Regions from separate parts of the Homo sapiens genome. Here regions 2, 3 and 4 are each linked to region 1. Evidence: fine-mapped expression QTL. A gene starts in region 1. Each other region holds a variant in brackets. All regions are shown on one strand. Distances are between the middles of the regions.

The links. PIP is the estimated chance that this variant, and not a neighbour inherited with it, causes the effect.
Region 2: its variant is the best candidate, but not a certain one, in a credible set for the expression of GTF2I in whole blood (GTEx, PIP 0.60).
Region 3: its variant is the best candidate, but not a certain one, in a credible set for the expression of GTF2I in whole blood (Lepik 2017, PIP 0.63).
Region 4: its variant is the best candidate, but not a certain one, in a credible set for the expression of GTF2I in substantia nigra (GTEx, PIP 0.85).

Annotation. Positions count from the first base shown.
Region 1 is chr7:74,653,011-74,660,971 of GRCh38, reverse strand. It overlaps GTF2I (general transcription factor IIi), which reads right to left and starts at 3,254. Exons shown (of 35, transcript NM_032999.4): 1 at 2,904-3,254. RefSeq lists enhancers at 685-824, 1,095-1,324, 3,275-3,324, 3,345-3,464 and silencers at 2,095-2,614, 2,685-2,974, 2,995-3,174, 3,545-3,704.
Region 2 is chr7:75,494,565-75,502,525 of GRCh38, reverse strand. It overlaps SPDYE5 (speedy/RINGO cell cycle regulator family member E5), which reads right to left. Exons shown (of 9, transcript NM_001306141.4): 3 at 7,152-7,370; 4 at 5,622-5,852; 5 at 4,530-4,588; 6 at 3,210-3,295; 7 at 771-1,164; 8 at 544-648. The coding sequence ends at 589. Among named protein-coding and RNA genes, the nearest start is that of SPDYE5, 6.2 kb to the right of the region's middle. The variant G/A (reference allele first, on the strand shown) is at 4,246.
Region 3 is chr7:74,713,525-74,719,808 of GRCh38, reverse strand. GTF2I (general transcription factor IIi) reads right to left here. Exons shown (of 35, transcript NM_032999.4): 10 at 4,893-4,952; 11 at 2,859-2,915; 12 at 868-930. All of the region lies in intron 2 of GTF2I-AS1 (GTF2I antisense RNA 1), which reads left to right. Among named protein-coding and RNA genes, the nearest start is that of GTF2I-AS1, 12 kb to the left of the region's middle. The variant A/GA (reference allele first, on the strand shown) is at 2,479.
Region 4 is chr7:75,479,067-75,487,027 of GRCh38, reverse strand. It overlaps POM121C (POM121 transmembrane nucleoporin C), which reads left to right and starts at 729. Exons shown (of 15, transcript NM_001099415.3): 1 at 729-1,164. RefSeq lists silencers at 822-971, 992-1,061 and enhancers at 505-1,004, 1,342-1,421. The variant C/T (reference allele first, on the strand shown) is at 3,900.

The DNA of each region.
Region 1 (7,961 bases):
AGGGGGCACGGAAGACACTCAAATGTAAGCAGCATTGCTACCACCGGCAAGGCACGAGGACGATGCCAAACTGGAGGGGGAAGTGGAGGGAGAAAGACATAGGAGGAAAAGGCTTCTTGTCCCTGCCCCTACGAGCTCAACACCCAGTGACTAGGCCAGATGCAGAGGAAAGTAAAAGTGCCCTTAGCCGGGCGTGGTGGAGCGCTCCTGTAATCCCAGCTACTCAGGAGTCTGAAGCAGGAGAATCGCTTGAACCCGGGAGGCGGAGGTTGCAGTGAGCCGAGATCGCGCCACTGCACTCCAGCCTGGGCAACGAGAGCGAAACTCCGCTTCCGAAAAAAAAAAAAAAAGAAAAGAAAAGAAAAAGGAAAAGGAAAAAAAAGAGAGAAAATAAAGGTGCCCTGCGAGGAAGGGCACACAAGTTGATTGGGAGACTAAGAAGGAACAAACTCTGACTATGCAATATAAGAGAAGACCACAGGCCGGGAGCGGTGGCTCACGCCTGTAATCCCAGCACTTTCGGAGACCGAGGCAGGCGGATCACCTGAAGTCAGGAGTTCAAGACCAGCCTGACAAACATGGCGAAACACCGTCTCTATTAAAAATACAAATATTAGCGGGGCTTGGGGGCAGGCGCCTGTAATCCCAGCTACTCGGGGGAGACTGAGGCAGGAAAATCGCTTGAACCCGGGAGGTGGAGGTTGCAGTGAGCGAAGATCGCGCCACTGCACTCCAGCCTGGGGGGATAGAACGAAACCCTCTCAACAACAGCAGCAAAAAAAAAAAAAAAAGAGAAGACCTTAAGGAAGTGGCTGCATATGAGCAAGAAAGATTTCCATAGGCTGAAAAATGTCATTCCAGCCAAAAGACCAAGATCTCAAGGAGGAGGAGAAACGAAAGCCAAGGTAGCAGCCACAGAAAAATCCTGTAGCAGGAAATAAAATCGGTCATCCCACACCACAGGCCTCAGCCTGGGGAGAAGACCCCGCCTCCGCAGGGCACTCTACCTGCACGTTCTCATTTGCAAACTAACTTCCCCTTTTGTTCCCTGAAGGACTGGAGACTTCTCCTCTGCACTGTTGGCTGATCAAGCCATTGTCTGCGGCAAAGTTGAATTTAAAAGAGATGAGGCCCAGCGTGGTGGCTCAAGCCTGTACTCCCACCACTTTGGGAGGCCTAAACGGGAGGATCACCAGAGTCCAGGAGTTCCCGACCAGCCTAGGCAACACAAGAAGACCCCATCTCTAAAAAAAAATTTTAAATTAGCCAGGCGTGACCCAGGGCGGTGGCTCACGCCTGTAATCCCAGCACTTTGGTGGCAGGCCGAGGCGGGCCGATTGCTTTCAGCTTGATTCAAGAGTTGGAGACCAGCCTGGCCAACATGGTGAAACGCCATCTCTACTAAAAATACAAAAATTAGCCGGGCGTGGTGGGCACGCCTGTAATCCCAGCTACTCAGGAGGCTGAGGCAGGAGAACGGCTTGAACCCGGGAGGCAGAGGTTGCAGTGAGCCGAGATCACACCAGTGCACTTCAGCCTGGGCCACAGAGTGAGACTCCATCTCAAAAAAAAAAAAATTAGCAGGGCATGATGGCATGCGCCTGTAGTCCCAGCCACTGAGGAGGCTGAGGCAGGAGGATCGCTGGAGCCCAGGTGTTGGAGGCTGCAATGTGCTATGATTGTGCCACTCTGCGCTTCAGCCAGGGCAACACAGAGAGACCCTGTTTCTAAAAAAAAAAAAGAAAATTAAGCCGAAAGCGATGGCTCACACCTGTAATCCCAGCACTATGGGGGGCCAAGGTGGGAGGATCGCTTGAGCCTAGGAGTTCAAGACCAGCCTGGGCAACAAAGTGAGAACGCATCTCCACAAATAATTTTTTTTAAAAAAAGGAGGTCAGTAGTCAGCAAGAGCTGCGCATCGCCAAGAGTGGACACTACTCCAACAGCACCCCACCTGTGAACATCCCCAGCCGCAAATCAGCGCAAATCCATAACCTAGGGAGGACAAAATTCGCTACACGAAAAAGCAAAAGCTGGATTAAGAAAAAGTGGAGAAGTCGGGGAGCGGGAAGGAGACAGCTTTTTCCATTTCATTTTCCTTCTTCCTCTGCACTCCCGTCGTCTGGGTGCTGGCTGAACCCAGACGGCTTAATTTTCATGGCCTAAAGCTGAAGTTTTCCTTCCGGTCATTGTGTTTATTTCCCCCAAAGAACAGGCCCCGCGGGGCAGGCGCGCCGGGCCGGCCCGGGACAAAGCCCACTGCGGACTCCACCTGGGAGCGGGGCGGGGCGGGGGACAGCGCTCCCGCTCCCCCGCCCGCCGCAGTTACCAGGCAACGCGCGGCCCCGCCCCCGCGCCGGTTGGCCAATCCCGCGCGTCTGCTGCCCCGGCGCAGGAGCCCCAGATACACCAGGCGAGCGCGACCCCACGACGGCTCGGGCCTGGCACCGCGCGCGCCCCCGCACCGCCTAGCCGGCCAATCAGCGCGGCGGGGCATGCGCAGCCCGCAGGGCCGCTCGCTCGCTCGCGCGCGGGATCGCACGCGCGAGGCGCCCCCCCACCGCACGCCGGTCGGCGCGCGCGCCCCTCCCCCACGCGCACTGAGGCGCGCGCGTGCCACTGTCGTCCCCCGCGACCGCGTCCGTGCCGCCCCACCCCCATCGCCTCGTTTCGGCCACTGCCAAGGCCGGCGGGGCTCGAGACCCGGCGAGGCGGTGGGGGTGGGGGTAGGGGGAGGCGGCACGGGCGCCCCCCAAGGCCCCACACCGCGCGCGGCGGGCCGCGGCTCCCAGGCCCCTGTCCCTGCAGGCCCCGGCGGGGCAAAGTCTCTAATAAAGGCCCCCGCTCGCAATGGCCCCCGAGGCGGGGGCGGGGGGCGCGGGGATGAGGCGAGAGGGACTCACCCGAGTGCGGCCGCCTCCAGGCAGCTCCGGGGCCGGGGGTGCCGAGGGGAGGCGAGTGTGGGCCGCGCGCGGGCTGCGGCCGCCGCGGAGCAGCCTCGGCTGAGGGGAGCTGGCGAGCGGACGGGAGGCGAGAGGGGGCGAGGGGCCCGTGCGTGTCGGTCGCGCTCCTGTCACCGCCGCATGGCCGCCCCGCAGGCAGGGCCTCGCTCAGCGCCTTGATCCGATCACTGGGGGACAGAGGCAGAGGCCGGGGTGACCGCGGCAGGCGGGCGGCCGCGGCTGGAGAGCGCGTGCGGGGAAGCGGGGGGGCGACCGGTGGCCCCTTTTCTCTGCTCTCCCAGCTTCTCTCTCACCCTCCTCCTCCTCCTCCTTTTTTTTTTCTTTTTTTTCTTTTTTTTTTTTTTTTTTTTTTTTTTTGTTCCTCGAAGGCGCGTTGCGCCTGCGCATCCGCAGCGCCGCCCAGCGGGAGTTGTAGTTTCGGATGCGTTCCCCGTCAACGCGGCGGCGGCGGTCGTGGACTACAACTCCCAGGAAGCACCGCGCCGGCTAGCCCCGAACCCGAGGACGAGGCAAGCGCGGCGCCCGGCCCTCTCCAGCAAGGGCTGTCAATGGAGGCGAGGGTGGTGGGAGCGAGAACATGGCTGCACCTGGGGCCTGCGCGGCCGCCCGGGTGGGGGAGGGGAGCCGGGGTGCAGAAACGGAAATCTGGACGGGTGGTGGCTCCGGCGTCGTCCCCACCGAGCGCCAGCCGCCGTCCAAGTCCGCCACTTGCTCTTGCACCCCACATTCCTTGCAAATTGCGAGGCAGGGAAGCTGCAAAAGCCGGGGAGCCCCGGGCTGGGCCGTCGCCCTCCTTGCTCTGCAAAAGGGGAGTCCTTCCGCCTTGCACCACCCTCCAGGACACAAAGAACTCCTCTCTAGTGTTTTCCAAGCTGGCCTCCAAAGAGACCGTTGCCCCCAAGTTCGGACAGGCGAGAGGGGAGGAGACCTTGTGTTTTAATTCCTCCCCCAGACCCTCCGCCTCTATCTCTCCCTCAGGATTTGGAAGGAAACTTGCAAGGGAGTGGGAGCAGAAATCCTGACTCGTAGCTCCTGTTTTGTTCTGTCAACCGCGATGCGATTTAACTCAAACTCCTCCCCCTACCACTATTTTTTGCTTCTCAACTTGAATTAGCCGGTGGGTTTTGAAAATGGAGAGACATTACTGTTCACCTAAGTTAAACTCCAAAACTTTACAACCCCGAGGCCGACGATTTTTAGATGTTTATGTAAAGCACGAGATTGAGTGGTTTTTTGATTCCCGCCCGCCCCCCCACCCAGTACCACCCACTGGGGATTCGGGCCACGACGGCCATCCTCCCCCCACCCGCCGCTTCTCGGTAGGTGGCGACCACGACGCTTTTTCCAGCCTCCAAGCCTTTGTCGCTAGCGAGAAAACTTTCCGAGCAGCCAGTCTTTTGATGTGGGTTCCAAAAACCTTTCCTTTCAATCTGGGTTCTCCGATTGGCATTCCCCATCGTCTCTCTTGCACAGACCGCACCCAATAAAGCCTCCTCTAGAATTTTCATGTTGGATTTTTTTTGAAAAATACATGGAGAGCGTAAAGCTCACCGGAGAAGCAATCTGATTACAGAAGCCTGAATTTTTGCGATTTCCCGGACAATGTCTAGGATCCCTTCGGTCCTTGCCTAATAAGATTGTGACTCTCCTTTGTCGATTGTCTCGAAAGTCATTCATTAAGTTTGCACAAGAGCAACTTTCTTTTTGCACTTGTATTTCATTGACATTTAGTAATATTTAATTAAATTCTCTATTCCCAATACCACGTGCCACTGGCATATATTTAGGAACAAATTTAACTCTTGAGAAGCCTATAACTCACTCTAGTAAGAGCAGCCAGCCTACGAGATGCAGATTTCAGCTGCTGTGGACTTCAGTGAGTATCTTTTGTTGAGAGAGTGGTTTCTCCACCTGGAGGGGTCAGGGAAAGGATTTCCTGGGTATAGTGGAGTCGTGGAGTAGAATTTGGGGGGATGTTACAAAGTGAGTTAGCAAGGCAGAAGTTTATTTAGCCAAGATGACTCTTATCATCGTGAAAACGTTTGGAAGGTAGTTCCTTTCTTCTATGAATTTGTTTAGTGGTTCACAGTGGAATTTTTTTTTTGAGACCGAGCCTCGCTCCGTCACCCACGCTGGAGTGCAGTGGCGCGATCTCGGCTCACGGCAACGTCTACCTCCCGGGTTCAAGTGATTCTCCTGCCTCAGCTTCCTGAGTAGCTAGGATTATAGGCGTGCACTACCACGCCCAGCTAATTTTTGTATTTTTAGTAGAGACGGGTTTCTACTAAACATGTTGCCCAGACTGTTCTCGAACTCCTGACCTCAAGTGATCTGCCTTCCTCAGCCTCCCAAAGTGCTGAGATTACAGGCGTGAGCACCGCACCGGGCCCACAGTGGAATTTTGCTGCCTCTTCATAAACAACTCCAACTTCTTTGAGACTGAAGCAATTCCTAAAACGGTTAGGTCAACATGAGCTGGTTTTGAATTACCTCTAGTCAGAAAGCTGTCTCTGTTGAGGCAATGTGTATGCAGACAAAGCGTTTTTCTGAGCATTTTGCCATTAAGGTTTGTAACCCTCAAATTCATGTGTTACAGTCATAAAGATCTTGCGTGTTCTGTCTTCATTAAGGTCTGGCTCACTGCGGCTTGTTGGAACACTTGTCAACCAATTTCTCCTTCATCTTAGTGGCATAGATACTACATTAATTGTGGCCATTGTTATAAATCACTTTGGATACTATCTCTCTGCAAAGCTGGGGTTTTGTTTTACTTTTTTTTTTTCCTGTTTTTGAGACAGGGTCTTACTGTATCACCCAGGCTGCACTGCAGTGGTTCGATCACAGCTCACTGCAGCCTCCAACTCCAGATTCAAGCCATCCTCCCACCTTAGCCTCCCAAATGCCTGGGACAACATGTATGTGCCACCACACCCAGCTAATTTCGTTTTTTGTAGAGACGGGTCTCACTATGTTGCCCAGGCTGGTCTTGACTTCTTGGGCTCAAATAAGCCTCCTGCCGTGGCCTCCAAAGTGCTGCGATTACAGGCATGAGGCACTGCACTGGGCCCAGGTTTTTTTTCAAATGTAGGATCAGATTACTGTTTTGGGGATTGGGCAACAGAAGAAAAATAATAGTTGATTTGTGTCTAAAAATGATGTAGTAGGAAGTCCTCCTTTATTTTATTTATTGATTTTTTTGGGAGGGGACGGGGTCTTACTCCGGTGCCCAGGCTGGAGTGCATGGTGCGATCTTGGCTCACTGCAACCTCCAACTCCTGGGCTCAAGCGATTCTGCTGCCTCAGCCTCCCGAGTAGCTGGGATTACAGGTATGCACCACCATGCCCGGCTAATTTTTGGATTTTTAGTAGAGACAGGGTTTCACCATGTTGGTCTGTCTGGTCTCAAATTCCTGACCTCAAGTGATCTGCCTGCCTCAGCCCCCCAAGGTGCTGAGATTACAGGCGTAAACCACTGCACCCAGCCAGGAAATCCTCCTTTAAAGACTAGAATCGGGCTGGGCACAGTGGCTCATGCCTGTAATCCCAGCACTTTAGAAGGCCGAGGCAGGCAGATCACCTGAGGTTAGGAGTTCGAGACCAGCCTCAGCAACATGGAGAAACCACATCTCTTCTAAAAATATAAAATTAGCCGGGCGTGGTGGCGCATGCCTGTAATCCCAGCTACTCAGGAGGCTGAGGCAGGAGAATCGCTTGAACCTGGGAGGGAAAGGTTGTTGTGAGCCGAGATCATGCCATTGCACTCCAGCATGGACAACAAGAGCGAAACTCCGTCTCAAAAAAAAAAAAAAAAATACTAGAATCACAGGATGCATATACCAAGAGATGCAGACTGGATTGGGGCTTCAGCAAGAGCAGATTTGCGGCTCTCAGCTCATGGTCAGTCAGGACATAAGTACAGAGTCCAACAGCTGGCAGAACCATCCATGTTATTTCAATTATTTCCCCCTCTCTTTTTGTTAATGTTTAGCTTAGTCTTCAGATAAGCGTCCATATGATGTGACTTTTCCATTCTTCTGTTTGGTGGGAAACAAAGCCAGGTCAAATGGGCCTTGGCCAAGCTAGAGATGGATCTGGACCCCACGTGAGCACTTCCACCAACTCAGATGCATCTTCGCTTAGACTCTGGGCTTAGAGCTTCGTTGACTGCTTTGAAATAGCATGTGATTGGCGCGGTGGCTCATGCCTGTAATCCCAGCAGTTTGGGAGGCCGAAGTGGGAGGATCACGAGGTCAGGAGTTTGAGACCAGCCTGGCCAACATGGTGAAACCCCATCGATACTAAAAATACAAAAAAAATTAGCCGAGCATGGTGGCATGTGCCTGTAATCCCAGCTACTCGGGAGGCTGAGGCAGTAGAATCGCTTGAACCGGGGAGGCAGAGGTTGCAGTGAGCTGAGATCGCGCCATTGCACTCCAGTCTGGGCAAAAGAGCGAGACTCCGTCTCAAGATGGTGAAACCTGTCTCTACTAAAAATACAAAAAATTAGCCGGGCGTGGTGGCAGGCGCCTGTAATGCCAGCTACTCGGGAGGCTGAGGCAGAGAACTGCTTGAACCCGGGAGGCGGAGGTTGTAGTGAGCCGATATCGCGCCACTGCACTCCAACCTGGGAGACAGAGCGAGACTCCATCTCAAAACAAAAAAGAAAAGAAAAGAAAAAAGAAATAGCACGTGATCATGGGACCCTGCATAGGAACCCCTGAAAGCCCACGGTGACAGAACGGTGGTTATGCCACTTTGTTGAGATCTCTGTTGTTGGGATCATATGCTCTTTTTAAAGATGTTTTTTTGAATCCAAACTGAATACTCTTTTGGTGACTCTGTTATATCATTTTTTTTTTGGTAGAGATGGAGTCTTGCTATGTTGACCGGGCTGGTTCCAAACTCCTGGCTTCAAGCAATCCTCCTGCCTCAGCCTTCCAAAGTGCTATGATTACAGGCGAGAGCACCTGCACCCACCGTCTCTCATATATTATATTA
Region 2 (7,961 bases), 840 kb before region 1:
CAGCTGGGGCCTTTTGTGTCTCTTAAGATCCAGACTTGTAACCATGCTAGATGTGTTTCTAATGTGACAACATCACGAACCACGAGTCCAGAAGCCTAATCCTTAATCCTACCTCCTCATGATGAAGTCTTATGCTCTGTGCTCACCGTGGTTAGCTGCACAAGATGTAAACCAAAGCTTCACTGAACCCTCGACCCAAATCGGTAACTCAAGTGCATCAATCATAATGAACCTCCCCCAACTCAGTATTTATGATTATTTTTGAGGCAGGGTCTCACTCTGTCGCCCGGGCTGGAGTGCAGTGGCAGGATCAGGGCTCCGTGCAGCCCCGACCTTCCAGGCTCCAGCGATCCTCCCGCCTCAGCCTCCTGAGTAGTTGGGAGTAGAGATGCCTCCCACATCGCCTGGCTAATTTTTGTATTTTTGTGGAGAGGGGATCTCGCCACGTTGCCCAGGCTTGAAGCCGGATCAAGCAATTGGGTTCTTCGGATTTCCGAAATAGACCCCAATATTCTGCCTTTACCCCGGAGGATGCAGATGTACCTTCTCTCAGGCCGATGACCTCAGGCCTCCACGGTCCCTGGAGCTCTAGGAAAGGTGAGCGCGATCTCGCGCCCACACCCAGTGCTCTGGGTCATAAGCCTGGATCTGGAAAAACAAACGCCCTTTGAGAAGACGGGGACTCGCCAGGATACCCCTCTCTCCCCTCATCCAGCCTCCAGCCCACCCGATTCCTCCCCACCTCCTCCACCTCCCCAGGCCCCACCTACCTCCTCCAACTCCTCCGGGGAAACCCAAGCCCTGCCGCTCATGGAACAGAAGAACTGGAACCGACGTTTCTGGAACAGGACTATCTGAGAGCGGTTCTTCCTGGCCCTCAGGTTCATGGAACGGCCTAACTGGAACCGACGCTTACGGAGCAAGGGTATGCGAGAGCGGTTCTTCCTGGCCCTCGGGTTCATGGAACGGCCTAACTGGAACCGACGCTTACGGAGCAAGGGTATGCGAGAGCGCTTCTTCCTGGCCCTCGGGTTCATGGAACGGCCTAACTGGAACCAACGCTTACGGAGCAAGGGTATGCGAGAGCGGTTCTTCCCATACAGGAAGTGGAAGATGTTTTGTTTGGAGTCCTCGTCGTCCTCCTCCATGTCATTGGCCAGGTAGCTGAGGACAGAAATCAGGTTGCTGCTCAGGGGCACCACCAAGAGAGGCCTCCGGCTGAGGTCAGCTTCCCAGAGAGGAAGGTAAGGGACCGTCCCTAGCTCAGGACTGGCACCCACCCTGCAGAGAGCCACGCCTTCCTCAGGAGGGCTCTGCTGGACAGAGACCTGATCAAGGGCGTCTCCCACTCCTTCAGGATGGAGACAAAAACCCAACTGGTGGCCGAGAGTGGTGGCTTATGCCTGGAATCCCAGCACACTGGGAGGCCAAAGCAGGAGGATCACTTGAGGCCAGGAGTTTGAGACGGGCCTGGGCAACATAGCAAGACCCTCGTCTCTATTAAAAATATAAGAAATATGCCAGACGCGGTGGCTCATGCCTGTAATCCCAGCACTTTAGAAGAATGAAGCAGGTGGATCGCTTGAGACCAGGAGTTGGAGACCAGCCTGGTCAACACGGAGAAACCCCATCTCTACTAAAAATACAAAAATCAGCCTGGTGCGGTGGCACACCCGTTAGGCCTAGCTACTCAGGAGGCTGAAGCATAAGAATTGTGTGAACCCAGGAGGCGGAGGTTGCAGTGAGTTGAGATTGGGCCACTCCATTCCAGCCTGAGAGGCAGAGCAAGACTCTATCTCAATAATCAAACAAACAAACAAACAAACAGTCCAGGTGTGGTGGCACAGCCCTGTAGTCGGAGCTAATAAAGAAGCTGAGGTGGGAGGATCGCTTGAGCCCAGGATATGGAGGCTGCGATGAGCTATGATCTCACCACTGCACTCCAGCTTGGGGGACAGGGGAAGTCTGTCTCAAAAAAATAAAAGAAATTGAATACATTGATATTTTGCCAGGACCCTGCCTTCTACAGGCATCTAGTCTAATGGGACTGGGAGTAATCAAGGCAGATGACCTAATCCCAGTGTCCAGGATGTAACTAGAGAGCTACGGGCATGCAGAAGTTGGAAGATGAGGGAAGGCATCACAGAGGCTGTGGGGTGAACTGACTTCAAGGAATGGGTCCTTCCCTTCAGAGCCACATGTGTGCGGGACACCCAGACAGAAAACACAAACACAAAGTCGAGTGGAGGGCATTTGGAAGAAGCAGTGAAGCCGAGCCAGGAAATACCAAGATGGCGAGCCAGTGTGCTTGTAGAGATTGTAGAATTGACACTGTGGACCCTGGCCTCGATAGAGAAAGGCATCAGCTAAGGAAGTTGTTCAGGTGGGCAGTGAGGTTGTCGTGCTTTGGAAAGATGTTCAGGCTGCACTAGGAAGCCCCCTGGCTTGGGGAGAGACTCCAGGAGACCCCAGCAGGGAGCATTTGACAGTGGATTCGAGTGATGCGAGGGGGACCTGAACTGTGGCCTCTGTCATGGGAACCCAGAGGAGGTCGATGGCGTTTGTGGTTGATGTGGGAAGGAGAGAGAGAGAAGAACCAGAAACGTCTGCTTGCTGGAGGAAGCGGCATGTCCGCTCCTCCACTCCTTTTCTTTTCCCCTTAGGAGCGGTTTATGGTTCCTTTTGTTTTATTCTTTTATTTGTACACTGGCATTGGAGTTTGTTTTTTTGGCTTTTTTTTTTTTTTTTTTTTTTTTTTTGAGAAAAAGTCTCACTCTGTCACCCAGGCTGGAGTGCGGTGGCTCGACCTTAGCTTACTGCAACCTCCACCTCCTGGGTTCAAAGGGTTCTCTTGCCTCAGCCTCTCGAGTAGCTGGGATTACAGATGCACACCACCACGCCCAGCTAATTTTTCTATTTTTCGTAGAGACGGGGTTTGGCCATGTTGGCCAGGCTGGTCTCGAACTGCTGACCTCAGGTGATCCGCCTGCCTCGGCCTCCCAAAGTGCTGGGATTACAGGCGTATGCCACTGTGCCCAGCCTGAGTTTCTGTTTAGAAACAACAGTCTATGATAGTATAATCCTCTCTTTTTTGTACACAGAGTAAAGAGGACAAATAGGTGAAAGAATAAATGAAAGGCTGGAATCCCACTTCCCCCGCTGTCCCAGGGCATTGGATATTGATGGATAGGAGGCAGCAAACCACTCACAGAGCCAGGAAGAAATGAATGCGTTGGTATTGCCAGGAGGGGAAGCCGGCCCGGCTGAAATACGCTATGACCATAGCCAGGAGATACTGATGGAGAGAAAGGAACACAGAGAGGGAGAGGTCACATCTTGGAAGAGGAAGATTGTGGAGAGGGGGAATGAGGGTCTGGGGAGGGGCTGCCCATCAGAGAAGGGACCTCAGTGTTGGGGTGACTGTACTCATTTGGAAATTGCGGGATGGAGGGGTATTCGAAGGTCGGATGCAAATCCGAGAAGCCAGAGGAAGGGTTTTGGGTGATGCTCCCAGGATGGTGGGCTCCGATGGGATCTTTGGAGGGGGTGTGTCTAGGTCGGCTGGTGTAAGGAGGGTCTTTTGTGTGCCAGGCAGAGAACTGTCCTGAAGAGCTGAGAGTAGAGGGGCCAGGAGCTTCAGGGCTGCGGCCAGACTGTGGCCCAGAGCTCAGATCCCAAAGGACCCATAGGAGAGGCAGGGGCCACTCATTCACTCTGCAAGAGACCAGCAGAATCCTGAGGGAGATGCTGACAAATCATAAAAAGACCAAGAATAGCCGGGAGTGGCGGCTCAAGCCTGTGATCCCAGTACTTTTTGAGAGGTGGAGACAGGAGGATCATGTGAGCCCAACAGTTCTAGAACAACCTGGGCAACATAGTGAGACCCTGTTTCTACAAACATTTCAAAAATTAGTTGAGCATGGTGGCATGTGCCTAGTCCCAGCTCCTCAGGAGGCTGAGGAAAGAAGATTGCTTGAGCCCAGGAATTAGAGGCTGCAATGAGCTATGATCATGCCACTGCACTCCATCCTGGGGAGCAGAGCTAGACTCTGTCTCACAAAAAAAAAATTTGTGGGTGCCAAGACTCAAGACCATGGGAGCTGGTCGGGCACAGTGGCTGACGTCTATAATCTCAGCACTTTGGGAGGCCAAGGCAGGTGGATCGCCTGAGGTCAGGTGTTCAGGACCAACCTGGCCAACATGGCAAAACCCCGTTTCTACTAAAAACACAAAAATTAGCCAGGC[G/A]TGGTGGTTCATGTCTGTAATCCCAGCTGCTTGGAGGCTGAGGCAGAAGAATCGCTTGAACCCGGGAGGCATCGGCTGCAGTGAGTCAAGATTGAGACACTGCCCTCCAGCATGGGCAACAGAGCAAGATTCTGTCTCACAAAAAAAAAAAAAAAAAAAAAAAAAAAAAAGACTGTAGGAGCATCTGGTGGGAGGTGGTGGAGGGAGAACTGTGGGTTTGGAAGCTGCGCCCTCCCCCGAGCCATGCGTTGGAACAGGAACAGTTACATGGAGAACAACCTTACCTTGTCCGACACCCTCAGATCTTTGTCCCAGGCCAGGAATCTTTTAATGACAGGATCCTCTGTGATTAGAGAGCAGATGTCAGTGTGAGAAGCAGGACAGGGTTTCCGTGGGAGCAGCAGGGCAGCGAGGAGAAGTGTGCCTCCCGGGGGGAAGTCTCAGGATTGTGGCCGCGGGTGAGGTGGATGGGAGAGGGGAGAATGACTTTCACTGGGCAAGGGAGAGAGGCTCCTGCTCTGAGACTCCCCTGAGAAGAGGCCGAAGGAGGCCCTGGGTGTGAGAATCTACAGGATGTAGAGCTGGGAATCAACCAGGACCCCCTCCAGCAGACACGGAGGGACCACTGCAGAGTCATAAAGGAATTCCCATCATTTCCTCATGAGACAGTCACATCAGGGTGTGACCATGGCCTTGGTATCCCTCACTATGGATGGAAACACTTAGGTTTAGAAAAGTCAGTAAGAGACATTAAGTTTCAGAGGGCACAGCTGAAACCACTTTCTTTGTTTATTGATTTTGTTTTTCTTTATTTGATTTTTATTTTTATTTATTTATTAATTTATTTTGAGACAGAGTCTTGCTCTGTGGGCCAGGCTGGAATGCAGTGGCCTGATCTTGGCTCGCTGCAACCTCTGCCTCCCGGGTTTAAGCGATTCTCCTGTCTCAGCCTCCCGAGTAGCTGGGATTACATGCATGAGCTACTGTGCCCAGCCTTGGTTTTTCTTTTGAGACAGTGTTTTGCTCTGTCACCCAGGCTGGAGTGCAGTGGTGTAGTCATAGCTCACTGCAGCCTCAAAGTCCTGAGTTCAAGCAATCCTCTTGCCTCAGCCTCCCAACATGCTGGGATCTCAGGCAGGAGCCACTGCACCTGGCCCGAAACCAAGCTTTCTTATCCCAAGCGCTGACCTTTATCAAGTTGACCTAATCCTTTATCATCTCCTAAGTGTCCCTCATGAGTGATCACTTCACATTCCTCCCACATGGAGAGCTCACCCACTGGGGCATATTTTTCCCATTGGAAAAGTGTGGTTATTGGAAGTTTCCTGTTTTTGGAAAGAACAGGATTGGAGGTGCTCTCTGGGGTGTCCTCCTACCAAGCAGCCTGTTGAAGGCCTCGTGGTGCTCAGGGAGCACGAGCGACACTCGCCGTCGCTTCAGCTTCATCTTGAGGCCACACAGCATCTCCGCCACCCAGATCTCCTCAGGCTCAGGGGCGAGCACCTTCCGTGGCTCCTCCTCCAACGACTCCTCAGATTCGTCCCACCACTCCATCTTCCTTTTCCAGCAAAAGGACCTATGCGGGGGGCTGGGATCTACCCCAGGGGCTGAGTAAAGAAACCAGGCCATGGTGTAATGCTTCTGCAGTTGATCACACTAGAGCCCAACCCAAAACCCCAAACCACTCTCCATCCTCCCCAGCCTCGCAGACTGCTGGCTTCTCCAAGCCATCTTTCCTTCTGTCTGTCTCCTCTGCTGAGCTCCATGTGCTGCTCCTTCTCCTCCCCATTCTCCCGTTTCTCTGTCCTCAGAACACTTCCTCATATCCTTCCCTGGTCCCTGGCTCTCTGAGTCCCTTTTTTTTTTTTTTTTTTTTGTTGTTGTTGTTGTTGTTGAGAAACAGTCTTGCTTTGTGGCCTAGGCTGGAGTGTAGTGGTGCGATCTTGGCTCACTGCAACCTCCGCCTCCTGGGTTCCAGTGATTCTCCTGCCTAAGCCTCCCAAGTAGCTGGGATTACAGGTGCCCACCAGAACGCCCAGCTCATTTTTGTGCTTCTAGAAGAGACAGGGTTTCACCATGTTGGCCAGGCTGGTCTCCAACTCCTGGCCTCAAGTGATCTGCCTGCCTGGCCTCCCAAAGTGCTGGGATTACAGGTGTGAGCCAGTGCACCCTGCCTCAGTACCTCCATTCTTCCCACACACCCTCCTCACGTGCTCCTTCCTGACTTCTGGGCCCTTCCTTCCTTCTTTTTTTTTTTTTTTTTTTGACACAGCGTCTCAAAAAAATGCAGTGGCGCTATCTTGGCTCAAAGCAACCTCTTCCACCTGGGTTCAAGCAATTATCCTGTCTCAGCCTCCCGAGTAGCTGGGATAACAGGCATGCCTGGCTAATTTTTGTATTGTTAGTATAAATGAGGTTTCGCTATATTGGTCTGGTTGGTCTCGAACAACTGACCTCAAGTGATCCACCCATCTTAGCCTCCCAAAGTAATGGGATTACAGGCATGAGCTACCACACCCGGCCTTCGTTTTTCTTTTGACACAGGGTTTTGCTGTGTCACCCAGGCTGGAGTGCAGTGGTGCAGTCATAGCTCACTGCAGCCTCAAAGTCCTGAGTTCAAGCAATCCTCTTGCCTCAGCCTCCCAACGTGCTAGGATCTCAGGCGTGAGCCACTGCACCTGGCCCGAAACCAAGCTTTCTCATCCCAAGCGCCAACCTTTATCAAGTCTAGCCTAGTCCTCTATCGTCTCCTAAGTGTCCCTCATGAGTGATCACTTCTGAGTCCTCCTGCGTGGAGAGCTCACCCACGGGGGGCGTATCTTTCCCATTGGAAAAGTGTGGTTATTGGAAGTTTCCTCTTTTTAGAAAGAACAGGATTGGAGGTGCTCTCTGGGGTGTCCTCCTACCAAGCTGACTGTTGAAGCCCTTGTGGTGCTCAGGGAGGATGGGTGACACTCGCTGTTGCTTCAGCTTCATCTTGAGCCCACACAGCATCTCCACTACCCAGGTCTCCTCAGGTTCAGGGGCGAGCTCCTTCTCCGGCTCCTCCGCAGATTCATCTGACCACTCCCTCTTCCTTTTCCAGCCAAGGGACCTACATGGGGGGCTGGGATCTACCCCAGGGGCTGAGTAAAGAAACCAGGCCACCGTGTAATGCTTCTGCATCTGATCACCTTAGACCCCGACCCAAAACCCCAAACCACTCTCCATCCTCCCCAGACTCGCAGACTGCTGGCTTCTCTAAGCCATCTTTCTGATTTTCTCCTCTGCTCAACCCCATGTGCCGCTCCTTCCCCTCCCCATTCTTCTCTCTCTCTGTCCTCCGAACACTGCTTCATGTCCTTCCCTGGTCTCTGGCTCTCTGAGTCCCTCCTTTTTTGTTTTGTTTTGTTTTGACACAGAATCTTGCTTTGTCACCCAGGCTGGAGTGTAGTGGTGCAATCTCAGCTCACTGCAACATCCATCTCCTGGATTCCATTTATTCTTCTGCCTCAGCCTCTCAGGTAGCTGGGATTACAGGTGCCTGCCATAATGCCCAGCTCCATTTTGTACTTTTAGTAGAGACAGGGTTTCACCATGTTGGCCAGGCTGGTCTCAAACTCCTGGCCTCAAGTGATCCGCCTGCCTTGGCCTCCCAAAGTTCTGGGGTTACAGGTGTAAGCCACCACACCCAGCCTGAATTTCTCCATTCTTCCCACACACCCTCCTCAGGTTCT
Region 3 (6,284 bases), 60 kb before region 1:
GGCTGGGATTACAGGCATGCACCACCACACCCAGCTAGTTTTGTATTTTTAGTAGAGATGGGCGTTTCACCATGCTGGTCAGGCTGGTCTTGAGCTCCCGACCTCAGGTGATCTGCCTACCTTGGCCTCCCAAAGTGCTGGGATTACAGGTGTGAGCCACCGTGCCCAGCTGTGAGACATTAATTTAAAAGGAAAAACGCAATGCTCATTTAATAACTATTAATATGAAGTGATAGTTAATAATTCTATTAGCTGAATTTTCAAATAATTCAGGATAAACTGGCTCAGCTGAGTTCAAGCTTATCTTTGGAGAAAAAAACAGGTTTGAAGCAATCTTAGCTATAGAGAGTATTGTAGAATATATTTGTAGCTATTGCTTCAAAACAGTTTTGAAAGATAAATTGTATGTCAGCCTCTAAGTAGTATTTGCGGGTCGTTGAAGGGGGCAGGGACTTGCTTTAAAAATTACTCACTAAACTATCAACACTTTCTCCTCCACTTTACTTAATTAGAAATTAGGGATTCCAGCTCCAAATAAGTCTTCTTCTATCACAACCCAATAGATTATAGAATCTGTTTTTGTGTGTATCAAGTCTGGTCATAATTTTCTTTTTCTCTTTTCAACTCCCACTGATAGCAAGGATAGCTTGGGCCACCCGTGGGCCAATGCTAATTCTCACGGCCTCATTCTGTCATCTAAAACTCCCAAAGCACTGGGGAGTGGGCTGCTTTGGCCACACAGACACATGTATTCGTCCCACAAGTCTCCTTTAAAAATGAATGAAATGCATATTTAGCAATGTGAATGTGACAAGTATTTTTATGACCAGAAGTAAACTTTGGAATCAAGGCTTTTAGATAACTAACCTTCAATAGTCACCTCAACTTCAGGGTCCTCACTTGTTTCTGAAGGGACATGTTGAGTAGAATCTTGAAAAAAATAAAATTCTAAAATGACATTCATTATTAAGCATGTTTCCATATGTTCCAACATTTTACTGATTTGATACTCCAAAAGCAGCCTACTATAAAAATCCACTGGCATTTTCATTCATTTCATATTAATGAAATTAAAATTTGACCCTTGTCATTATAAATAGGGATAAAAGAAAACAAAAATTAGAAAAACTCTGGAAAAATTTAGATGATAACATGTTACCTGCAGAAATTGACTCAAAAAAATCCCATAGTCTTGGAGGAATGAGGATATGACAAAGTCACAATGAATTTCCTGCCACAGCTAGAAGATGCTCGGATAGAAACAAATGCTTTCTACTTTGGTTAGAATTTCTTCTCTCCTTTCAGAAATGTGAGGAGTGGTTTCTACTGTTCAATAAAACCACAACCCAGGCTTTACAATGGAGACTTTCCTATCAAGAGACTGAGTGTCACAAGTGCACACAAGACTATATCCTCTGGCTTTGTATGCAACATATTTCAAAAATTACAAAGTTCATTCATATTTGTTCCTACACAAGACAAATGTACATCAGAGTGTTAGTGCTAGAAGCTTATAGAGTATTTTCATTAGTTCTCTTTCATTGTGCAAAGGTTGAGAGATTAATTGATTTGCCAAAGATTATGTTTACTTGTTAGTAAAGGAATAAAGGCCAGAACCCAGATTCGATTCAACTTTGTTAACACTGGAATATGACAGTAAAAATGTCCTAAAAACGCAGTCTTCAAGGTGCAGTACCTGCCGGCGGGGCTGCAAGGCGGTGAGCCATCGGTACTGCCCAATGAGCCCTCGTACTGCACATGATCTATTACCTAGGTCTTGTTGTTCTAAATCCCGCCTATTCAAAGCTGAAAACTCTGTCACTCAGAAGATACCCACCTCCACACAGTAAAGCATACAACATTCACCCACACAATCTTCTATAAAAAGGGCTGACAGGGAAATGTAACCAACGGTTTACAATGAGCATATCAGTATTTTTGAGAGAAATGTATTCCAGGGAGAAACCCTAATTCTATAATTGAATTTGGAGAAACCAGCCTATACTGGGGAACTTTTAAGATTGCCTTTCCCTCAAAGAAGGTAAAAGATCAAACAAATGTTTTTTTTTAATTAAAATAAAAATGTAAATACAATGGAATATAAGCAGTTACACAACAGACTCCTCTTTTCATTCTAGAAAAATAAGGGATAACATGACCAATTTATGAGAGAAATAATTCTAAAACAAGATTCAGTTACCTTACCAGTCATTTTCCTTGGGAGAAATCTACAAAAATTTGTGTGGAACCGTTTAAACACCTTGGAAATAAGAAGCCACCCTACATGATAAGTTGAACTCAGGATTCTAAACAAAAAGAACTGTACCTCAGTCAGGCGTTCAATTCTAAAACCAAAGCTGTAGAGCTGGTAAACTGACAAAGTCATTTATGGAGTAGTTGTGAGTACAAAATAAAGGGAGAAACTCTCTCCTGTATAAATTTTATGTAGACTAAATTCCTACCCTACTAAGAGACTAG[A/GA]AGTATTAAAAAATACATTTGAAAATAAAATATGAATGGAGCTAGTAATTTTAATTCTGAAACACTGAAGCTATTCTTCCTTAAAAGATATTTAATATGGCACAAGAAAACCAGGACAAAAAAAAAAGTAGCATTTTGCATCATGTAAGAGCTTTACTTACCACTTAGTTTCATTCCCATAGGCTTTATTAATCAGTATGGTCAAAGAAGTATATTACATCTTAGAATTTTTAAAAAAATAATAACCTGTTGGCTAGGAAGGCATACCAAGGGAATCACCTTTTATTTCCAAATAAGGTGTTTTAAGGATAATAGAATCTATAAAATAGAATAAACATACAACAAATAGTGGAAAATATGCAATCTCTTTTTCTCCTAACCTTCTGCTGGTACTTCCATTTCTGTGCCTTCATTGCCCTCTGAAGAATGGTGGCTTCCTAAAAAGAAAATAAACAACATATAATAAACCAATAAAAACTGACATTGAAAGATGAAAGAGAATCTAGGTAACAATGCAAACAATCTAAGACATAATAAACATATGCAAAATGATTGTCTAACTCTTTAGCAGTTAAGTCGAACAATGTTTTCTAATTCAGAAAAGAATACAACGCTTCTATTTGGAAGCTAAAAAAATTATTTGAAAACACAAATACAGAGTAGACCTAAGTAGGTTTGGGGATTTAATATTAGTTACTATAACTACATGATAAAATTACTAGATATTGGAATCTGAGGAAGCAGAATTATGCTTCAAGTACCATGCTCATCTGTCAAAGACACACATACACAAACAGATCAGAGTAAATGCTTGCTGTGATCAGACACTTAATTAACTCCCTATAAATAAGTTCAGGGTTTGCTGTGGAATGTTTCATGCTTTCCATTTTCACTATGGTGAAAGCCATGGAAACTCAATCCCCATAATTTCATCAAAGTTGTACTTAAAGGAAACTCGTAAGTTAAAATTTAAGATACTACCTTTAGTCTCAAAAGCATTTTAAGTCAGGTAATATAATCTGCCTGCTTCTAAAAACTGGAACATAAAGCAATGATCAGTTAGGCAGTCACAAGGTGAACAGGCTCATCCTACTAGAGCAGAAGTTTTACTCACAAAAAGGAAAGGAAGAATCTAAGACATCAGAGAGCCACTTAGGATTAAGAACGCAAGCTGCCCCCTAATTTGTATCCTCTGTCCTTAAAGATCTGAGCTACTAACATGGAAAAGATTGAAAAACACTGCCTTTAAGTACCAAAAAAAAACATATTACCTATTAGTAAGAATACATCGCTTGAGGGGAAAGGAAGCAGATGTTCATCTCTTTTGTCTTATCTATTGAGAACTAAATTCAGAAGCTATACTAAAAGTAAGATATGTTATAAATGTATTTTATCTTGATTTTTAAAAAGCAATGCTTACGGTCTGAAAAACTGTCATTTGGTAGCTAATATCCTTGAATTAAAAGTCCCATACTGAGGTCACATCTTTTTGGTTCTCAGTATCTAGCTTTAGCATGTCACAATTATCTGGGGATTCTTTTCCACTTACTTTATATTGTGAAAACTCACCTGAACTCAAACTCTAGGTAAATCTACAAACCTATACCTATGAGTCACTCTTTAATTCATTTTTAAAATATGCTTTCTCTACACACTTCCTTTCTCTTTTTTTAATCTTAATATTTGAATTTATGGAGCATTAAGTTATTTGACTGTAAAAGTCAAAGAAAAAAGAGATGTGAGGTCAAAGGAATGAGAGTGAAATGATGAGGCCAGTAGGTAAAAAGTAAAATTTCAGCAAAGAATAACAGTTAAGATGATTGTTCGTGTAAGCAATAATTCTGTATGTCTTTTAAAATCTGAAATAAACAATTACATTTACATTATATGCTAAGCCTAAAGAAAATACATCTTATGCACTCAAAGCCAGAATAGATAGAAGTAAATGCCATTACTAATAGCCTATGAGTATCAAGTTTGGGAACACTGTAAAAAATTGCCAAAAAGGCAATCAATTCGAAACTTACAGATTAACAAGTGCTATTTCAGAATTCTTCTAAATACTAAGTATCAACCTGACCTTATCAATATTTGCATCACTAACCAATAAAACAGTAACCTGGCTTCTGACTGTTCTGAGATAAGGTATAAATGTGTACTTTACCTTCAATAGGAAAGTGTGTCATGTACCCATTTCGAGATTCATTACTAGATTCACAAAAGGGAAAATTGATTTTTGAAAAATTGTTGCTTGTGAAGTTCATTTATATGTTAAAAAAAGGCCAATACATTTTTTTCCTTTTCCATTTAGAAAAGTAATACTGTACTTATAAATATTAAAACACAGTCTGTGCAATATAAGGAAACATTAAACACAAGCAGTATGTGGGAGAATGGAAGTGAAAAGATTATACCTTGCAAAGGCTTCGATAGGGGCTGTTTTTCATCAACATCATCAGTTTCAGAAGGGCCTGCTTTGGGATACAAAGATAATACTTCAAAAGTAATCCCCCCCAAAAAAAAATGTGGGGTGACTTTAGTCAACAAATTTGGGTGAGATACATGGAATGGCCTTTTTATAAATAAAAAGAAAAAAATTAAAAAAAAAAAAGACTGACAAGATGAGCAATGTCAATTTATGGTCTTGGTGAATGGAAAAATGTAATCAGGTGAATTCATATGTAAACAGTCAAAAGAAATTTTGAAGATGACTGGACATATGGATTGAATGGGAATGGTATGTCTAAAATGGAAGATGTGGGTTTTTTAAAACAGTACAATGTTCATAACAGTAAACTGTAACTTTTACTTCATACAGATTACAAATGCAGGTTTATCTCACAGGTTTATTTGTTTCTTCTTTGGCAAATATTTGCTTACTCTTTTGTCATACTGAAGAAAAATGCAGAACCAAATGTTATATACCTTCCTTAGAATCTCTAAAATAACGTAAACCATCTCCTTGAATCTCTACTGAAATAGAAATGTGACAAACTAACAGCTATTAATTCATTCTCCCTTTCTTCCAGCACAGCGGGCACTTTTTCTAATAAGGTTCTTTCCAAAACACAGAAAGTACTCTGAGTTAAATTCAACTTCACAAACTGCTATATTTTGACAACACATTTACATGTTATCATCAAACTTTTTAATGATTAAAATAATAATAGTTTTAAAATAGAAAACAAAACATTGTGTTTTCAATGGCTATTTAATATAAAACACATTTTGGCATTAATATGACCACAGTTCAGTTAACTATCTCTGAAGAGAATTGGGAAAACATCCGAAGTTGTTTGAAAGGCTTCATTCTCTAAAGCCTAAGAAATTTCACAAAGATGCACCACACTACACATTACAGGCAAAGGACACATCAGAGAAAAAAATCAATTGCATGAGAAATAAAGAAATAGTTTCTATTTGGAATCTCAAAGAAGAGCAAGTCTTGGAATGTAGACTCCTAAATTCAAATGCTAGATCCACTGCTTCCTAGTCTTCTGACTCTGAGTAAAATATACAGAGCTCAAGAAAAGGAAGATGTGCTATTTACAGGATTTAAAAATGCAACCTTAGTGAAGGCTACTAATTGACCTCTAAGTACTGCTTTAGTTGCTCTTCACAAGTTTAACTATGTGGCATTCTCAATATTCTGGTCTAAATATTTTTAATGAGGCCCTCATTAAGTCAATTACAAGCATGTTTCCTAGGATTCCCACTGTGTATGTTTTCTATTAATAATTTAATTTCAGTATGTTCAGAGAATTTATTAAGACTGTGAACAAGTATACAGTCAATTTTTATAAATG
Region 4 (7,961 bases), 830 kb before region 1:
GCTTTGTCGCCAGGATGGAGTGCAGTGGCGTGATCTCGGCTCACTGCAACCTCCACCTCCCAGGTTCAAGTGATTCTCCTGCCTTAGCCTCCCGAGTAGCTGGGATTACAGGCACGCGCCACCACGCCCAGCTAATTTTTGTATTTTTAGTAGAGACAGGGTTTCATCATGTTGGCCAGGATGATCTCTATCTCTTGACCTCGCGATCTGCCCGCCTCGGCCTCCCAAAGTGCTGGGATTACAGGCTTGAGCCACTGCGCCCAGCTACAAATTCTATTTTCTTTTTGTTCCTTGGAAAGCATCGCTGGGCATTTATCCTGTCCCAGTATTTGAGTGAAACTTCTCAGCATTTCAGAGCAGTGACCATGATACACCCTTTCCTTTCCTTCTCCTTATGGGAAACTCCGTTCTAACCCAGAGGACTTGGGCTCCAGGACCCAGTAACGGAGCCCTGGATTTGACCCTAAAAGGGAGTAAAGACAAAGGTGAAGTTCAGTCCGGGGTTCAGGGCTGCCAAAGCTCATAGCCTGGAGCTTCTTAACCTTTAGGCAGGGTAGAGACATTTAAGACGGCCCCAAAACTGGGGGAGCGCGTAGGCTCCTGGGAAATAGAGTCCGTTACTTGTCCTGGGACCCGCGGTGGGTGTCCCGGGAGGCGGACTTCCGGTGCACTCCTGCGCTTGTGCACCTCTCCCTGCGTGCGTGTTCGCACATGCGCGCCACCTCCGCACTGCCCTCGCTTCCTGTGCCTCTTCAGGTCATCGCTTGCTCTCGTTCCCAGGCTTTGGCTTCTAGTGGACGAGAATCACCGAGTCTGCGGGGCTGGATGCTGACCGCCCGGACCAGCACCTAGGCGGGCGGGAGCTGTGCGGCCCAGGGTTCGCGCGGGCCGGGTAGAGGCTCGAGCTGGGACCCCCGAGCGTGAACCCCGGAGCCGGCGGCGCTGGGGCCAGAGGGGCCGGGAGCCCCAGGGAGGCGGATCTGGGCCCCGAGAAGGACACCCGCCTGGATTTGCCCCGTAGGCCCGGCCCGGGCCCCTCGGGAGCAGAACAGCCTTGGTGAGGTGGACAGGAGGGGACCTCGCGAGCAGACGCGCGCGCCAGCGACAGCAGCCCGCCCCGGCCTCTCGGGAGCCGTGGGGCAGAGGCTGCGGAGCCCCAGGAGGGTAAGTCTTGGGTTTTTGGGCCCGGAGCGAGAAGGGCCTGGGTGAAGTCACCTTGTGTTGGGGACCTTTGAGTGTGGGGCAGAGGGAGGGTCCCGATTGCTTGCCGGAGAGACATGTGTTGGGTTTGAGGGCAGGGTCCGGCTGCACCGAACAGGTGCTGCATGGGAAGATCTGGGAGGACGAGGCTTACGGAGGCGTGGAGGGTGTCACCACCCTCAGCTGCGGACGTCGTCTCCACTCCCCGCTAACCCCTAACAGTCCTTCCTCCTCCTCTCCGTGCTCCAGATTTCGACCGCCTCTAAACGTCCGTCAGCACTTCTATTCTCTCACTTAAGTGTCTGCTGATCCCCCCCCTTAGACCTGCCCTGGGAGAATCGTAGTAATGCAGGAACAGTCTGCAGGGATTCTCTGCTGCTGCCTCAGTTGCTAGGGGAAGAGACTGGGCCTTAGGTGGGTGACTTGACCAGGTCACCGGCTTTGTGGGTAGAGCTGCTCATAGTAGAACCCAGGAGACTTATCTCCCAGGCCAGTGTTCTTTCTCCCGTATCCTAGTTTTCTTAATAGAAGATTATTAGGTGCAGCAATAACCAAGTTCAGTTAGATAATTTAGAAACAAAACCATATTTTATACACATTCATTTCATTTCTGAGAGCTCACATACTCAATTCCTATGGCTTATTTTATTTTAAGCAGTTTAAAGAGACAATAAGAAAATGCGGGCGGGATGCAGTGGCTCACACCTGTAATCCGAGCATTTTGCGGGGCTAGGGCAAGAGTATCCCTTGAGACCAGGAGTTAGAGACCAGCCTAGACAACATGGGGACACCCTGACTACAAAAAATACAAAAGTCGCCAGGCATGCTGGGATGCATCTGTGGTCCCAGCTACTCAGGAGGCTGAAGTGGGAGGATGGATGGAGCCCAGGAGGTCGAGGCTGCAGAGAGCCGTGAATGCACCACTGCACTCCAGCCTGGGTGGCAGATTGAGACCCTGTCTCAACCAACAAACCACAAAAAACATGAGCCGTATAATGGGAATTTTTTTTCTTTTTGCGCCTTGTATTTGATGATGATGGCAGACTATTTGTAAAAGGAGTCATGTTACCCATGAGAGTCTAACTCATCTAATTACTACCTGATTATCTTAGAGTTACAGGCGCATGCTTCCCCTATCACTCTTTTTTTTTTTTTTTTTTTTTTTGAGACAGTGTCTCTCACCCAGTCTGGAATGCAACAGCGTGGTCTCGGCTCACTGCAACTTCCACCTCCCAGGTTCAAAGGATTCTCGTGCCTCAGCCTCCTGAGTAGCTGGGACTACAGGCATGTGACTCTATGCCTGGCTAATTTTTTTTGTTATTTTTAAGTAGAGACGGGGTTTTGCCATGTTGGCCCAGGCAGGCGGATCACTTGAGGCCAGAATTTGAGACCAGCCTGGCCAACATGGTGAAACCCTGTATCACTCTTTTAGACCCTTCTGAGTGTTTGCAGGTTGAGTGTTCACAGGGTGTTAGCCTATTGAGCTTTCTTTTGCGGTTCTTATGCAGGTGATTTCTGCCTTTGCAGGCCGGAGCCCTCATGACTTCAGTGACCTGCTTCTGCCCCTCTAGGTCTATCAGCCACAGTCTCTGCATGTTTCCAAGAGCAGCAGAAAATGAACACATTGCAGGTGAGTTTTCCTGCTTGTGTATATGTTCCTCAACTTTATTTTATGATGCATTTTAAGAGGTTTGTAAGGATTCATACTTTTTTTTTTCTTTTTTTTGAGATGGAGTCTTGCTCTGTTGCCCAGGCTGCAGTGCAGTGGCATGATCTCGCTTCACTGCAACCTCCACCTCCTGGGTTCAAGTGATTCTCCTGCCTCAGCCTCCTGAGTAGCAGGGATTACAGGCGTGGGCCACCATGCCCAGCTAATTTTTTGTATTTTTAGAAGAGATGGGGTTTCACTATGTTGGCCAGGTTGGTCTCAAACTCCTGACCTCAGGTGATCCTCCCGCCTCAGCCTCCCAAAGTGCTGGGATTACAGGCATGAGCCACCGAGCCCAGCCAGGATTCATACTTTAAAATGGGAATGTGGAAATAGACATTATCCTGTAAAATATAGTTAGTGTGGCAGATCAGCACCAAAAATGATTTGTGAAGCTTGTATGTATGGGTAGTATATTTTAAGGCTGTTGAAATTGAGCCGCACCTAGGACTGATACTCTTGGCAGTCATCACAAAAGGAAAATGCCATCTGTATTAGTCCATTCTCACACTGCTATAGAGAAATAACCAAGACTGGGTAATTTATAAAGAAAAGAGGTTTAATTGGCTCACGTCTGCAGGCTCTATCATAGGAAGCGTGGCTGAGGAGTCCTCAGGAAACTTACAGTCAAGTGAAAGGTGAAGGGAAAGTGGGTGCATCTTCCATCACCAGAGCAGGAGGAAGAGGGAACATTGGGGATTACAATTGAACATGAGATTTGGGAGGCGACACACACCGAAACCATATCACCATCCATGACATCGTTTGCATTGATTATAAGGAGAAACCAGTTTTGTTACTTGTGGACTTAAAAGATTTTCTGGGACTTGGAAAAATTTCTTCATTCAAGTTGATATAATTGTGGATAGCTTTCCTAACAACAACCATTAAATTACTGTAACTTATGGCTTATTCTTGGTGCTTATGTAAGCAGAGGGCCTGCTGCCCAAGGAGAACTTGGTGCATATAATTTTTCCAGGGACGGAAATAT[C/T]GTGATCCAAGTAAACAATTCTGTTTTTACTGTTGAGTCCTAGATCATGGGGGGAATGAATGACGTGATCATCCGTCAAATATTTGTTCGTCTTTTTGTTCGGGTTGCACAGCAAACAATACAAACAGTTACTCTCTTGTGAAGATTTCCTCATTTCTGTTTCTCATTTCACTTCTCCGTGTTTTCGTTTTGTCCTTTTCACTTTGCTAAGTCAGTCAGTAAAGGTGACCAGTGATTTAATTGCAGTCAAATCCAGTGGGCATTTCCTAGCCCCTTCCTCACAGTACCCTTTGTCTGCCTTTGACATCCGTTACTTCCAAACTGATATTTTCTCCATGGAGTCTCTCTTTTCTTGGCTTTTAAAAAGATTCATCTGTAAGTATTTGTTTGTCTTTAAATGGTGAAGTCTGTTTTGTTTTGTTTCTTTTTTTCTTTTTTTGAGATAGGGTCTTGCTCTGTCACCCAGGTTGGAGTGTAGAGACGTGATCACAACTCACTGCAACCTCAATCTCCCGGGCCCACACGATCCTCTTGCCTCAGCCTCCCGCCTAGCTGGGACTACAGGTGCACGCTGCCACACCTCGCTAATTTTTTTTGTATTTTAGTAGAGACTGGCTTTCACCGTGTCATGCATGTCGAACTCCTGAGCTCAGGCAGTCTGCCCGCCTCGGTGTCCCAAAGTGCTAGGATTATAGGCGTGAGCCACTGCTCCCGGCCTAGAAATGTATTCTCACTGTATTGCTCAGGCTGGTCTCAAACTCCTGGCCTCAAGCAGTCCTTTCACTTTAGCCTCCCAAAGTGGTAGGATTACAGGTGTAAGCCACCACACCTGACCAATAAGGAATCTTTTTAAAAGGGGCTAGGAATAACCCATAATACTGTCTTTCTTAATACATGTGGCAGTTGGGTTAAATCTTTTAATAGTTCCCATAGTATGTCTCCTGCGTGCTCATTGTTTTGAAGAAACTGGGTTGGTTATCCTCAGTTTGGATTATGTTACCCTTGTTTCACCTTTAGCACATTTTTTAAAAATATCTTGTATGCCTTGGTAAAATTGGTAGTTTGATCTGGAAGTCTAATCAGGTTTATGTTCAGTTCTTTTCACACAACTATACCATACGTGGCATTTGTCTACTTCTGGAGGCACGTGTTACCTTCTTTGTTTTTGTGAAGTTAAGAACTATTGACTTGATTATTGCTGTGATTTACTATTGCTGTGATTTGCCTTCATTAGGGGAGGCAAAATGGTGATCTGCTAATTCTACCATTTCTTCTTTATTTACTAGCCAAAATACTTTTCTTTTCTTTTTTTGGAGACAGAGTCTCACTCTGTCGCCTAGGCTGGCACGTTTATGGCTCACTGCAGCCTCAAACTCCTGTGCTCAAGTGATCCTCCCACTTCAGCCTCCCAAGTAGCTGGGAGTATAGTCATATGCCACAATGCCCAGCTGATTTTTTAATTTTTAGTAGAGACAGGTTTCTCTATGTTGCCCAGGCTGGTCTTGAACTGGGCTCAAGTGATCCTCTTCTTTAACCTCCCAGTGTTGGGATTATAGGCATGAGCCACCACGGCTGGCCTAGAATACTTTTCTAAAGATAAATTTCTATTCTCTATTTGTTTATGTAATTCATGCAGGAAAGACAGTTTCTAAAATATTGAGTAGGCTTTTAAGCAGGAGGGTATTTTGTTTTGTTACCATCATGAGCTCATGGGTTTAAACAGATAGTAAATATTTCAGTACATAGAAGTTGTGATTCTTTTTGAAAATTAAGTGGTTCCATCTTTGGCCAGACGGAATCCCTTTAAGTTGGTTTCTGAGTCCTTTTGAAATATATTTGATATATATGATAGCAAATATATACATATAATATATGTTTGATAGCAAATATATACATATATATTTGATAGCATTATTTTCTATTTAGCATTTTATTTTGAAATCATTTCAGATTTTCAGAAAAATTGCAAGGATTTTACAAAGAAATCCCAGATACTTCCTTTTGTTCAGATACTTCATTCTTAACATTTTCCCACATTAATCATTTATATGCCTATATACGTATGTGTATATATATATATTTATATATATATATATATTTTTTGAACTATTTGAGAGTGGGTATAACGTGTCATGCCTCTTTACCCTATAAAGTTTTAGATTACAGCTCATAAAATCAAGAATATTATATTAAATATCCATAGCACAGTAATTGAATTCAGGAAATTTATCATTGATTTAATACTTTTATCTAAACTATAGTTCATTTTCCAGTTTTGCCAATTTCCCAATAATTTCCTTTATAGCAATTTTTAATTTTTGGTAGAAGATTCAGTCTAGGACTGTTAATTGCCTTTAGTTTTCATGCTTTTTAAGTCTGTTTAATACGGATTTGTTCCACAGTGCCATTATAACATTTGAAGAATACAGGCCAATGATTTTATAGAAGTCTTTAAATTTAGGTTTCCCTGATCTTTCTTCATGATTAGATTTAGACTGTGAATTTTTGTCTGGAATGCTACATGGAACCTCTTAAATTTATGGCTCAGAACAGGATCTGTCTTGGGAAAATTCTGTGCATGCCTGAGAAGATGGCTTGTTCTGCTCTGGTTGGGTGGAGTGATTGATAAATGTTAATGAGATCAAGTTGGTTGGTTGTGTTGTTCAGGTGTACTATATCCTTGTTGATTGTGTGCCCACTTGTATCAATTGTGGGGGAGAGGGGATTGAAATCTGCTGCAGTTGTGGTTCTGTTTCTCTTTGCAATTTTACCACTTTTTGCTTTATGTGTTATATTAGATACATAAATGTTCAAGGTTATTACGTCCTGTTGATTAATTAACCACTTTGTAAAATGGCCTTCCTTATCCCTGCTAATATTCCAGGCTGTGAAATGTACTTTGTTATTTATGTAGCATTCTTTTGAGTAATACATGCATGGTATATCTTATTCCATCCTTTTACTTTTAACCTATTTGCATCTTTATATCTAAAGTATTATTTCTTACAGGCAGCAAAATTTGGATCTTGCTTGTTTTCATCAGTCTATTTCTGTCTCATAATTGGGGATGTATAAACCGTTTACATGTAATGTGATTATTGATAAAACGAGTTAGGTTATAGTCCGTTGTCTTTGCTTTCTTTTAGTCTCATCTTCTTTGTTTCTTTTTAAAATGTCTCTGTTTGTCTTCCTTCCTTTTGATTAGTTGAGAATTTTTTATGATTCTACTTTATGTCTTTTGTTGGGTTTTTAGCTATCACACTGTTTTGTTATTTTAGTGAGTTAGAATTTATAGTATGCAACTTTAATTGTCATAGTTTATTCTTAAGTAATATCCATTTTTCCTAGAATAAGAGAAGCTTACAATAGGACACTTCCATTTCTCTCCTCTTGGTCTTTACACCGTTGTTCATTTTATTTTTACAGGTGGTATCAGTGCCACACACTATCTATTACGTTGTTGTTAATTAAACTGTATTTATTTATTTATTTATTTATTTATTTATTTATTTAGAGACAGAGTCTCACTCTGTCCCCCAGGCTGGAGTGCAGGGGTGCTATCTTGGCCCACTGCAACCTCTGCCTCCTGGGTTCAAGTGATTCTCCTGCCTCAGCCTCCTGGGTAGCTGGGATTACAGACACCCACCATCACGCCCGGCTAATTTTTGTATTTTTAGTAGAGACGAGGTTTCGCCATGTTGGCCAGGCTGGTCTCGAACTCCTGACCTCAGGTCACCCATCTGCCTCAGCCGCCCAAAGTGCTGGGATTACAGGTGTGAGCCACCACACTTGGCCCAGGTATCTTTTAAAGAGATTTAAGTAATGAGAGAAAATACACAGTTACCATTTCTGGTACTCTTCATTCCTTTGTGTAAATCTAAATTTTTATTTGCTGTCATTTTACTTCTGCCTGAAGGACTTTCTGTAACATTTCTTCTAGTTGATGATGAATTATTATATGTCTGCAAATGTCTTCATTGTGTCTTTGCTTTTAAAGGTGTTTTTGCTGGATTTTTCTCCACAGTGCTTTAAATATGTTTCTCTGTTGTCTTCCTGCTTACA